Linked DNA regions of Homo sapiens. The protein of the gene in region 1 purifies or fractionates together with the protein of each later gene. This does not show direct contact. Each region holds a gene or a part of one and is shown on either strand. Other genes may lie near its edges. The genes, in order: PPP2R3A, FRMD4A and EEA1.

What was found.
Region 2: the proteins of PPP2R3A (region 1) and FRMD4A purify together in Homo sapiens (co-immunoprecipitation; one large-scale study listed by IntAct). This does not show direct contact.
Region 3: the proteins of PPP2R3A (region 1) and EEA1 purify together in Homo sapiens (co-immunoprecipitation; one large-scale study listed by IntAct). This does not show direct contact.

What each region holds. Positions count from the first base shown.
Region 1 is NC_000003.12:136,146,045-136,148,536, forward strand, and holds the end of PPP2R3A (serine/threonine-protein phosphatase 2A regulatory subunit B'' subunit alpha), read left to right. Parts: 3' UTR 1-1,850; downstream 1,851-2,492. UniProt on the Homo sapiens protein: The B regulatory subunit might modulate substrate selectivity and catalytic activity, and might also direct the localization of the catalytic enzyme to a particular subcellular compartment.
Region 2 is NC_000010.11:13,655,854-13,659,511, reverse strand, and holds part of FRMD4A (FERM domain-containing protein 4A), read left to right. Parts: intron 1-21; coding exon 22-189; intron 190-1,989; coding exon 1,990-2,876; intron 2,877-3,582; exon of another isoform or gene 3,583-3,658. UniProt on the Homo sapiens protein: Scaffolding protein that regulates epithelial cell polarity by connecting ARF6 activation with the PAR3 complex. Plays a redundant role with FRMD4B in epithelial polarization. May regulate MAPT secretion by activating ARF6-signaling.
Region 3 is NC_000012.12:92,803,728-92,807,385, forward strand, and holds part of EEA1 (early endosome antigen 1), read right to left. Parts: intron 1-3,658. UniProt on the Homo sapiens protein: Binds phospholipid vesicles containing phosphatidylinositol 3-phosphate and participates in endosomal trafficking.

The DNA.
Region 1 (2,492 bases):
ATATATTCCTTCCTCCCAGGAGTATTAGACTAGCTAATAGTAAAGGCCTCAACGTTATTCTTTACTTCATGTTGAAAACAATTACTACAGATATTTCATCCACCTCAGTATTTATCAAGGAAATGGAAAATGATACAGCTATAAAAGAAAGCTGTTATTTACTGTAGTTGTAGATGTATTCACTACAGAATCCTACATTTTTCAGCAGGCCACAGTCCAGCCAAATCCTATAATATCCTTGAAAAGAAACTATTAAAAAGGATAGACATTTCTGATGTAAGTAAAACCCCCAAGCAACTTAATATCCATCTGTCAGTCATCAACTTTTCCCCTAGATTTTTTTTTTAACTAGTTCTGAAAGTGTCAAGAATAGCTTCCCTTTCCACCCTACCTAGGTTCCCTCCTTGCTGGCATAAAGGCCAAGCAGTGAAATGAACCTTGGGTTAGAGTTATGGTAGGCAAAAAGAAAAGGAGAATTTAGGAAATAAATATGCTATAAACAAGGTACAGTACAGTGAGAGTTAACAATCCTAGGAATCCTGCCTGTCACAAGCTCCCAGTTCCCTGTCATTTTATCTTCATGATTAGAACTGATCTTCCATTTAACTATTACAGAAAGCAGTAACTATTGCAACTATCTAATAGTTCACACAAAAGAATTAAAAGCTTAAAAATAATTTTTAGGAAACACAATATTCAAAATCTAAACACACTGATAAATTATTAAGATTAAGATTATTTATGTGATAAATGAAATCTCCTACCAATCCATCCAGCCTTTACCAGGGAAGAAAAGCAATTATTTCATTTCAGATAGAAATACAAAAAAAAAAAAAATACTTTTCTTAGAAGCCAGATATGGTTTAAATGTTTTATTATCCATAATGATCTAAACTAATAAGATTCACCAAAAAGTAAAAATTCAATTTTACAATATACATTTTTTTTTTTAACTATTTGGCTTTACCTTTTTACCTTGGTTCTCCTTACTGAAGTCCTCTTGCTTTCACTTTGATCTGGTTTTTGAAGTCTCTTAATTATTGGCTGGGCATGGTGACTCATGCCTGTAATCCCGGCACTTTGGGAGGCCAAGGGAGGTGATCACTTGAGCCCAGGAGTAAAGACCAGCCTGGGCAACATAGTGAGACTCCGTCTCTACAAAAAATAAATTTAGCTGGGCATGGTGGTGCACATCTGTAGTCCTACCAACTTGGGAGGCTGAGGCAGGAGAATCGCTTGAGCCCCAGGCTTCGAGGCTGCAGTGAGCTATGATTACGACACTGCACTCCAGCCTAGGCGACAGAGCAAGACCCCATTCTCTTACAAAGTCTCTATTATAAAAGTACATCCATCAATACCATTCCATTTAAAATGGGCTATTGTAATTTACCCACATTATCACATTTTCAGGAATTATAAGAATGTGTTTTATTGTACTCCTTCCTTGGAGCTGAATGCAAGGAATGTGAATTCTGAGGAATTAAGGTAGAATATATTTGACTTTCTGGTAAAGATCATGGTTAAGTATAATCATTACTGCCAAACTGGAATTTTCAAGTTATTATAATATCCCAGGCCCCTTGATAAAAGCTGAGGGTTATCATGACCTTAATGCTAATTCAATGAGAAATGAGTTTAATAGCATAACATTACCAAGGTAATCAAACTAATAAAATTCCATATATCTTCCCTGCATCTTGTCACTGTGTACCATTCAAAGTGTTTATAAAACTCTAGATTCATCAAATGAGATTTGCTCAGCTTTTTGAAATGTTAAGATGTGTTTGGAGAAGGCTGCATGACTTTGTTTTTCCCTTTTAGCAAAACTAAATAAAGTTGTCAAATATGAATCATGTTCATTAAGGTAATTACTACACACTTGTGCTTTTAATCATATTTGCACCTCATTTTTTTGTCTGCAAGAGTAACACTGTAAACAAGCTTGAATGTCAGAGAATAACTCTTTGAGCCCATGTGAAAACTACAAAGAAAGGTCTTTGTAGTAATGACAATATACTGAGAAATGATTTCTTCAGGGGATAGGGAAGAGGACCAGGGTTTGTGAATGAGGCGGAGTTCACAGGAATCAAGGTAGACTTTAGCCTCATCTATAATGCATTATTTTAAAAGAATGTGTAACGGCATGTTTTGGGGTACCTAAATTTTATTTCAGAGGCAAGGTCTATGTTGCCCAGGCTGAGTTCGAACTCCTGAGCTTAAGTGATCCTCCCACCTCAGCCTCCTAAGTAGCTGAGATTACAGGCACACACCACTGTGCCTAGCTTTTAATTTTTTTAAAAAGAGAAAAGTATAAAATACCATACTTTGAACTTAGTATTTTCTAAAGCATTTCTGTTTTTTATCTATGATATGGTTATGGACAATTTATTTTTCATCTGATTCCCATAAAACTTTTACTCTTCTTCAACAAGGTCACCAATAAATTGTTTTAACTAAGAATACAATGAAATAAAAGGAATTCTTTATCCCTA
Region 2 (3,658 bases), on another chromosome or scaffold:
GTGGCATCCTTGGCTTTGCAGCAGCCACAAGCGCTTCCCCAGCACAGGAAGCTGTGCGGAAGCCGGCGGAGGAAGCAACTCCTTGCAGAACAGCCCCATCCGCGGCCTCCCGCACTGGAACTCCCAGTCCAGCATGCCGTCCACGCCAGACCTGCGGGTCCGGAGTCCCCACTACGTCCATTCCACGAGGTGAGTCTGCCTGGCCTTCCTGCTCAGACCAAGCCTTCCTTTTTAAAATTGGGCATTGTCAGCCCCAAGCTGGCCCAAATAATGGATGAGCTACAGTCAGACCTGAACCTGGGAGGATAAATGAAGCGGAATAAAAAACCAAGCTGGCAGCAGTCAACCCCCGTTAGCCAAGAGACCCATGCACAGGGCACTTGGAGTCAGCCAAAGAATCCCCGGGCTTCTGGAGACAGGGAGCATGGAAAGTTTCCTAAGCAAAGCAGAGGCCACAGAGGCTGGCTGGGTTAGCATGGGAAGAGGTCTTCTATCTTTCTACTGAGGCCTAAATTTATACTGGACTTCCTTTAGTGCCTCAAAATGTAAATTCATAAAGAGCAAAAGAGCCAGGCAAAAATGAGGCTTCAGTGAATCACACCTTCTGTTTCTTTTTTTTTTTTTTTTTTTGAGATGGAGTCTTGCTCTGTCACCCAGGCTGGAGTACAGTGGCGCGATCTTGGCTCGCTGCAACCTCTGCCTCCCGTGTTCAAGCGATTCTCCTGCCTCAGCCTCCCAAGTAGGTGGGATTACAGGCACCTACCACCACGCCTGGCTAATTTTTGTATTTTTTAGTAGAGACGGGGTTTCACCATGTTGGCCAGGCTGGTCTGGAACTCCTGACCTCAGGTGATCCACCCACCTTGGCCTCCCAAAGTGCTGGGATTAGAGACGTGAGCCACCGCTCCTAGCCACACCTTCTTTTTCTAAAAAGAAGCAAACCAGATCACGGAGGGCCACGTGATGGGGGCTTTCATCCCCCTTCTGAGTGGCAGTCGGAAGTGGGACTCGCCTCTTCCTGTGCTTGGCCCGTGGGGCCGCTGTGAAGTTCACATGCAGTCCCAGCATCGGGCAACATCATCTGCCATGTGATACTGTTTTGCACTTCCCTAAGCCCTGAGTGGACTCAAACGAGCAGAATGAATTATAAAGTAATGGTATGGTGAGTATTTGCATCATTCATTGTTTAATTATCTCATTTGCCACCAACCTTCTATTTCCCAGTTTTCACAGGAAAGGGGAGTCTATTTATATGGATCATGTAATAGTATTTGGTTAAACAATATGAAGGGCCTCTGTAGGACTGCTTTTATCTGATCTGTAAATAGGGACATTTCATCTGGTTTGTGTTTTCTTTTTTTTTTTTTTTTTTTTTTTTTAAGAGAGACAGGGTCTTGCCCTGTTGCCCAGGCTGGAGTGCAGTGGTTTGATCATAGCTTACTGCATCCTCAAGTGATCCTCCCTCTTCAACCTCCTGACTAGCTGGGACCCCTGGTGTACAACACTACACCCAGCTAATTTTCTAATTTATTTGTAAGAGATGAGGTCTTACAGTGTTGCACAGGATGGTCTCAAATTCCCAGGCTCAAGCAATTCTTCAGCCTCCTGAAGCACTGGGATTACAGGCGTGGACCACAGTGCCCAGCCCTATCTGGTTTAACATGATACTAAGGATTCTGTGATTCTCTTTGTGTCTATAGAATTATTTAAAAAAAAAAAAAAACCCAGAAATCGAAACCTTTCTGTGAGTCCTAGCTTCAGTCCCACTTCCCACTGGGAATCATGGTGGAGACCCCAGGTTCACCTCCCGCAATGGGCAGTTCCCGGATCCCTGGGGCAGCCCTGCTGAGTGAGACTCTGGCTTGCTGGGCTGGGGCCTGCGCCCGCGTGCAGACACCCAGTGCCCTCCTCAGGACCCCCTCCTCCCCGGAGCACCCCTCCTTGGGCCCACTCCCCACCCCCAGACCAACCCGGGTCGTCTCCCGGCAGGTCGGTGGACATCAGCCCCACCCGACTGCACAGCCTCGCACTGCACTTTAGGCACCGGAGCTCCAGCCTGGAGTCCCAGGGCAAGCTCCTGGGCTCGGAAAACGACACCGGGAGCCCCGACTTCTACACCCCGCGGACTCGTAGCAGCAACGGCTCAGACCCCATGGACGACTGCTCGTCGTGCACCAGCCACTCGAGCTCGGAGCACTACTACCCGGCGCAGATGAACGCCAACTACTCCACGCTGGCCGAGGACTCGCCGTCCAAGGCGCGCCAGAGGCAGAGGCAGCGGCAGCGGGCGGCGGGCGCACTGGGCTCAGCCAGCTCGGGCAGCATGCCCAACCTGGCGGCGCGCGGGGGTGCGGGGGGCGCGGGGGGCGCGGGGGGCGGTGTGTACCTGCACAGCCAGAGCCAGCCCAGCTCGCAGTACCGCATCAAGGAGTACCCGCTGTACATCGAGGGCGGCGCCACGCCCGTGGTGGTGCGCAGCCTGGAGAGCGACCAGGAGGGCCACTACAGCGTCAAGGCTCAGTTCAAGACGTCCAACTCCTACACGGCGGGCGGCCTGTTCAAGGAGAGCTGGCGCGGCGGCGGCGGCGACGAGGGCGACACGGGCCGCCTGACGCCGTCGCGATCGCAGATCCTGCGGACTCCGTCGCTGGGCCGCGAGGGCGCCCACGACAAGGGCGCGGGCCGTGCCGCCGTCTCAGACGAGCTGCGCCAGTGGTACCAGCGTTCCACCGCCTCGCACAAGGAGCACAGCCGCCTGTCGCACACCAGCTCCACCTCCTCGGACAGCGGCTCGCAGTACAGCACCTCCTCCCAGAGCACCTTCGTGGCGCACAGCAGGGTCACCAGGATGCCCCAGATGTGCAAGGCCACGTCAGGTGAGAGGGGGCGGCCAGGTGCACGCGGGAAGACCTGAGGGCGAACTGCTTGCCGGTGTCAAGGGCTACCGCGGGGAAGGTACCCTTAGGACTGGGTGCAGTGAGGAACGGGAATCATTAATTAATTCTGGGAACGCTGCTGTTAGATGCGGGAGACTTGAGGTCTTCCAGGCCTTTGTTGACCCCGCCCCGTTCTAACCCTAATCTTGCACCATAACCGTGCACCTGACCCTCCAGAGTGCACTGGGCCAGCTCTCCCATTTCTCCTTGTAAAGACAGAAATCTAAGAAAGTTAGTTAGGTAAAGTAAAAGTAATGTCTCTGGGTTTATCCAACCAAAGGTGTCTTTTACCCTAGTGAGGAGAGTATCCCAGTGAAAGCCCACAGCTGTAGCTTGCAAAGGAAGCTGGGTTGGGGATGGGCTTGGGTCAAGCCTAGAGATTTGGCCAGTGTCTCCCCAGATGGGGGCAGACTGGCTAATAAACAGTGCCAGAGCTGTGCGTTTGACAGAATTCCTGGCTGCTCCTGGCTTTCCCATTTCGATGATGATGTTATGCCATAGCCACAAACTATTATTTAAGTGTCTTAAATATCCTTGACGTTATATCTGAAAATTTCTATAAAGTTTACCTTATATTCTCATACTCAAGAGCATTGGGCGGTATTGAATCAAGTAAAAAACAAAAAAAAAAGGAAGAAACCACTCATTCCCTTAAGTTACATTTAATAACAGTGACAATGACCAACATTGAGCAGTTGCCTCGTGCTCCGGTCTCAGCACTG
Region 3 (3,658 bases), on another chromosome or scaffold:
GTTAAAGCTTAATAGGTTCACAAGATATTATTCCTCCTTGATTTTTAAAGGTCCAAATGGAAAAGTCATTATACTAATATTATTTTACATTTTAATATAGTTAAAATCCCTGTTAAGCAACCTTAGAATTAAGACTTGATATATTTATTTACTATGCTGCTTAACTTTTTCAAAATTAATTACAAAATCATAAGACTATGTGAATCAAAGAAAGCAAAACAGAAATAGAGGCTTACATAGTCACTGTGACACTTCTTGTTTTTTTTTAAGTAACTAAGGGAAGAAATAAACAAGTCCACAATCATAGTTGGAAACTATAATATCTCTTTTTAGAAACTGATAGAACAACCAGAGGAACAAATTGGCAAGAATATAGACAATAAGAACAGCACTGTAATTGTTATTTATAGCCACTCCACCCAATAACACAGAGTACATATATGTGCACATGGAAAATTAATTATGATAAGCCATATGCTGGGCCTTAAATAAGACTTACTTTCAAAAGTTTGAATTTTACCAAGAATGTTCTCTGACCACAATAAAATTAAATTAGAAATTAGGGCCAGGCACGGTGGCTCACGCCTGTAATCCCAGCACTGTGGGAGGCCAAGGTGGGCGGATCACAAGGTCAGGAGATCGAGACCAACCTGGCTAACACAGTGAAACCCCCATCTCTACTAAAAACACAAAAATTAGCCAGGCATGATGGCAGGCACCTGTAATCCCAGCTACTCGTGAGGCTGAAGCAGGAGAATCGCTTGAACCCAGGTGGCAGAGGTTGCAGTGAGCCGAGATCACGCCACTGCATTCCAGCCTGGGCGACAGAGTGAGACTCTGTCTCAAAAAAAAAAAAAAAAAAAAAAATCAGTAACAATAATATACCTAGGAAAGCCTCAATATTTGGAAAGTAAACATACTTATAACCTACACATTAAAGAAGGAATCACAAAGGAAATCAGAAAATATATTAAACTGCAGAGGAATGAAAATACATTGTAAGATGGGAGGGAAACATTGGGTGTATAAATGTAAGGGGGCCCTCAAAAAGGGGAGCCCTGTATCCTGTTATTTGGGCTAAGCCCTGGGCTCATGGGTGGGGTTTAGTCAAAGTCTCTATATGTTTATCTGATATAAGAGCAGAAGGGACCCCAGCCCTCCTTGCCTAGGTAGTACTCCAGAAATGTGAGAAGACCTCAGAGGAGAAATGTATGTACAAAGTACATAGGCAAGAAAGATCTTAAAGGTTTTCCTACCCCAATAGGATGTGGGAGCCCTGTAAGTGAATTCTGAACCATGAGATTAGAACATAGAATGAAAATGGGTCCACTTCCATTGGGCCCATTGGAAACAGAAAGAACCATTGGGCCTGCAGAGTTTTTGAGGAACAGAACAAAAGCCATCTCGGAGATGATCTTCATGGACTGATGCCTGCATTCTAGAGATAATGATGAACCATTTGGTTGGTAATGTAATGGATCAGATATGCTCCTCAAATACCTAGGCACTGGAAACTACCGTGAGGAGGAATGCCACCTGAGGCACAAGATGCAATTCTATAACCTCCGATTCAAAGCATCAGGACCCAATTTACTAGATATGAAAATGAGAATATTTTCACCATCATATCCCCAAACAAGGATGAAAACCATGAAGGTGTGAAACAACTTAATCATCAACTCTGATGGGTTTTATTTCACCTTTCTGAAGAGGACTTTTCTCAGGTTCTTAGTCTCTACCTTTACTACTGGAACAGTCAAGAGCCCTCATCCCCTTGACACAAGTCAAGTCCATCAACTCAGTCAGAGCAGGTGATTTGATGTTTAAAGACAAAATGTACTCAAATGTAACCAGTTATATGAAGACATTCAAATGAATTGGGTGGAACTGATTTTTATCCATCAAAATAATGGTGAGTGATGTGTTCATTGAAGATCTCATCATGGCAGGACCCAAATTCAGCATCAACATCAAGGATAAGCTGGGCAAGAGACTAATTCTACCTTGGGAGTGAACGAATGATGCTGCAGCTAAGCACTTCTATGGCTATATATGTTCAGAAGCACATGCCCATTCTGCCACCAGAGACATTTGAAATTTCATATACTAATAAATCGTATAGGTCCCAATAACTTCTAAACCAATCCACCCTTATACTCAGAGCTGCCATGAATCCATTGAGCACTTTAGTGCAAATTAGAAAAAAGATACCCTCTTTCAAGATAATTTATTCCATCTGTGGCAAAACTGTCATAATACACTGATTTTATTAGAATAAGGCTACATACTACCATCTGCAGAAATCTTACATCTAGCATTGACAAGTGAAAAGTGGGTAACTGAAAAAAAGAAACAGATACTACAAAATGTAGACAGACACAGTGACGCTTTCACATTTAAAAGCTATTAAAAAAAAGCAAAGTAATAAGGTCTAAAGATGGAAACAATAAAGAGGAGAAATAAATAAGATAGAAAACTGACAAAATAAATCAAAAGCTTTTTACAATAGTCTGATAAAACTGATAAATCTCTAATTAAATTGATTTTTAAAAAGACAAATTAGCATGATTAAGAATAAAGGAGGAACACTACTACAGATCCTAACAGACCTTAAAAGTGTAATATTATGAACAACTGCCAATAAACTTGAAGTTTAGAGGAAATGAACCCATTTCTGAAAGACACAATGTACCAAAACTGACTCAAGAAAAAAAAATCAGGAAATTAGAATAGCTCTATGTCTATTAAATGAATTGAACCCCAAATGAAACAATCCAGAAAGAGAACTCTAAGCCTAGCCAGTTCACTAGTGAATTCCATCAAACTTTTAAGAAACAAATAATATCCATCTCATACAAACTATTTCAGAAAGGAGGAGGAAATACTTCTCAATTCCTTTTTAAGGCCAGTATAACTCTGATATCAAAACCTGACAATGATATTAAAAGAATACTACAGACCAATACCCCTCATAAATATATGAAACATTTTTAACAAAGTATTATCAAATCAAAAACAGCAATATACAAAAAGGTAATACAGCATGGTCAAGTTAATTTATCCCAGGAAAGCAAGGTTGGTTTAACAGTAAATCAATCAATGTAACTGACCATATTAACAGAATAAAACAGAAAATCCATATGATCACATCAACAGATACAGGAAAAAAGGTGATAAAATTCAATCCAAGCACGGTAATTTTTCTTTTTTAATAATTTTTTTTTTTTTGAGACGGAGTCTCGCTCTGTCGCCCAGGTTGGAGTGCAGTGGCACTGGAGTGCAGTGGCATGATCTCAGCTCACTGAAACTTCTGCCTCCCAGGTTCAAGCAATTCTCATGCCTCAGCCTCCCGAGTAGCTGAGATTACAGGCGTGTGCCACCATCCCCTGCTGATTTTTGTATTTTTAGTGGAGACGAGGTTTCACCCTGTTGGCCAGGCTGGTCTCGAACTCCTGACTTCAGATGATCTGCCTGCCTCAGCCTCCCAAATTTCTAGGATTACAGGCATGAGCCACAAGGCCGATAATTTTTTTTTTATATATAACTAGGTATCAAAGGTAATGTCTTCAATCTGATAAAGGGAATCTCAGAAAAACCTACAGCTAACCTCAAACTTAATGATGAAACATTTAATATTTCCTGCCTAAGATTAGAAATA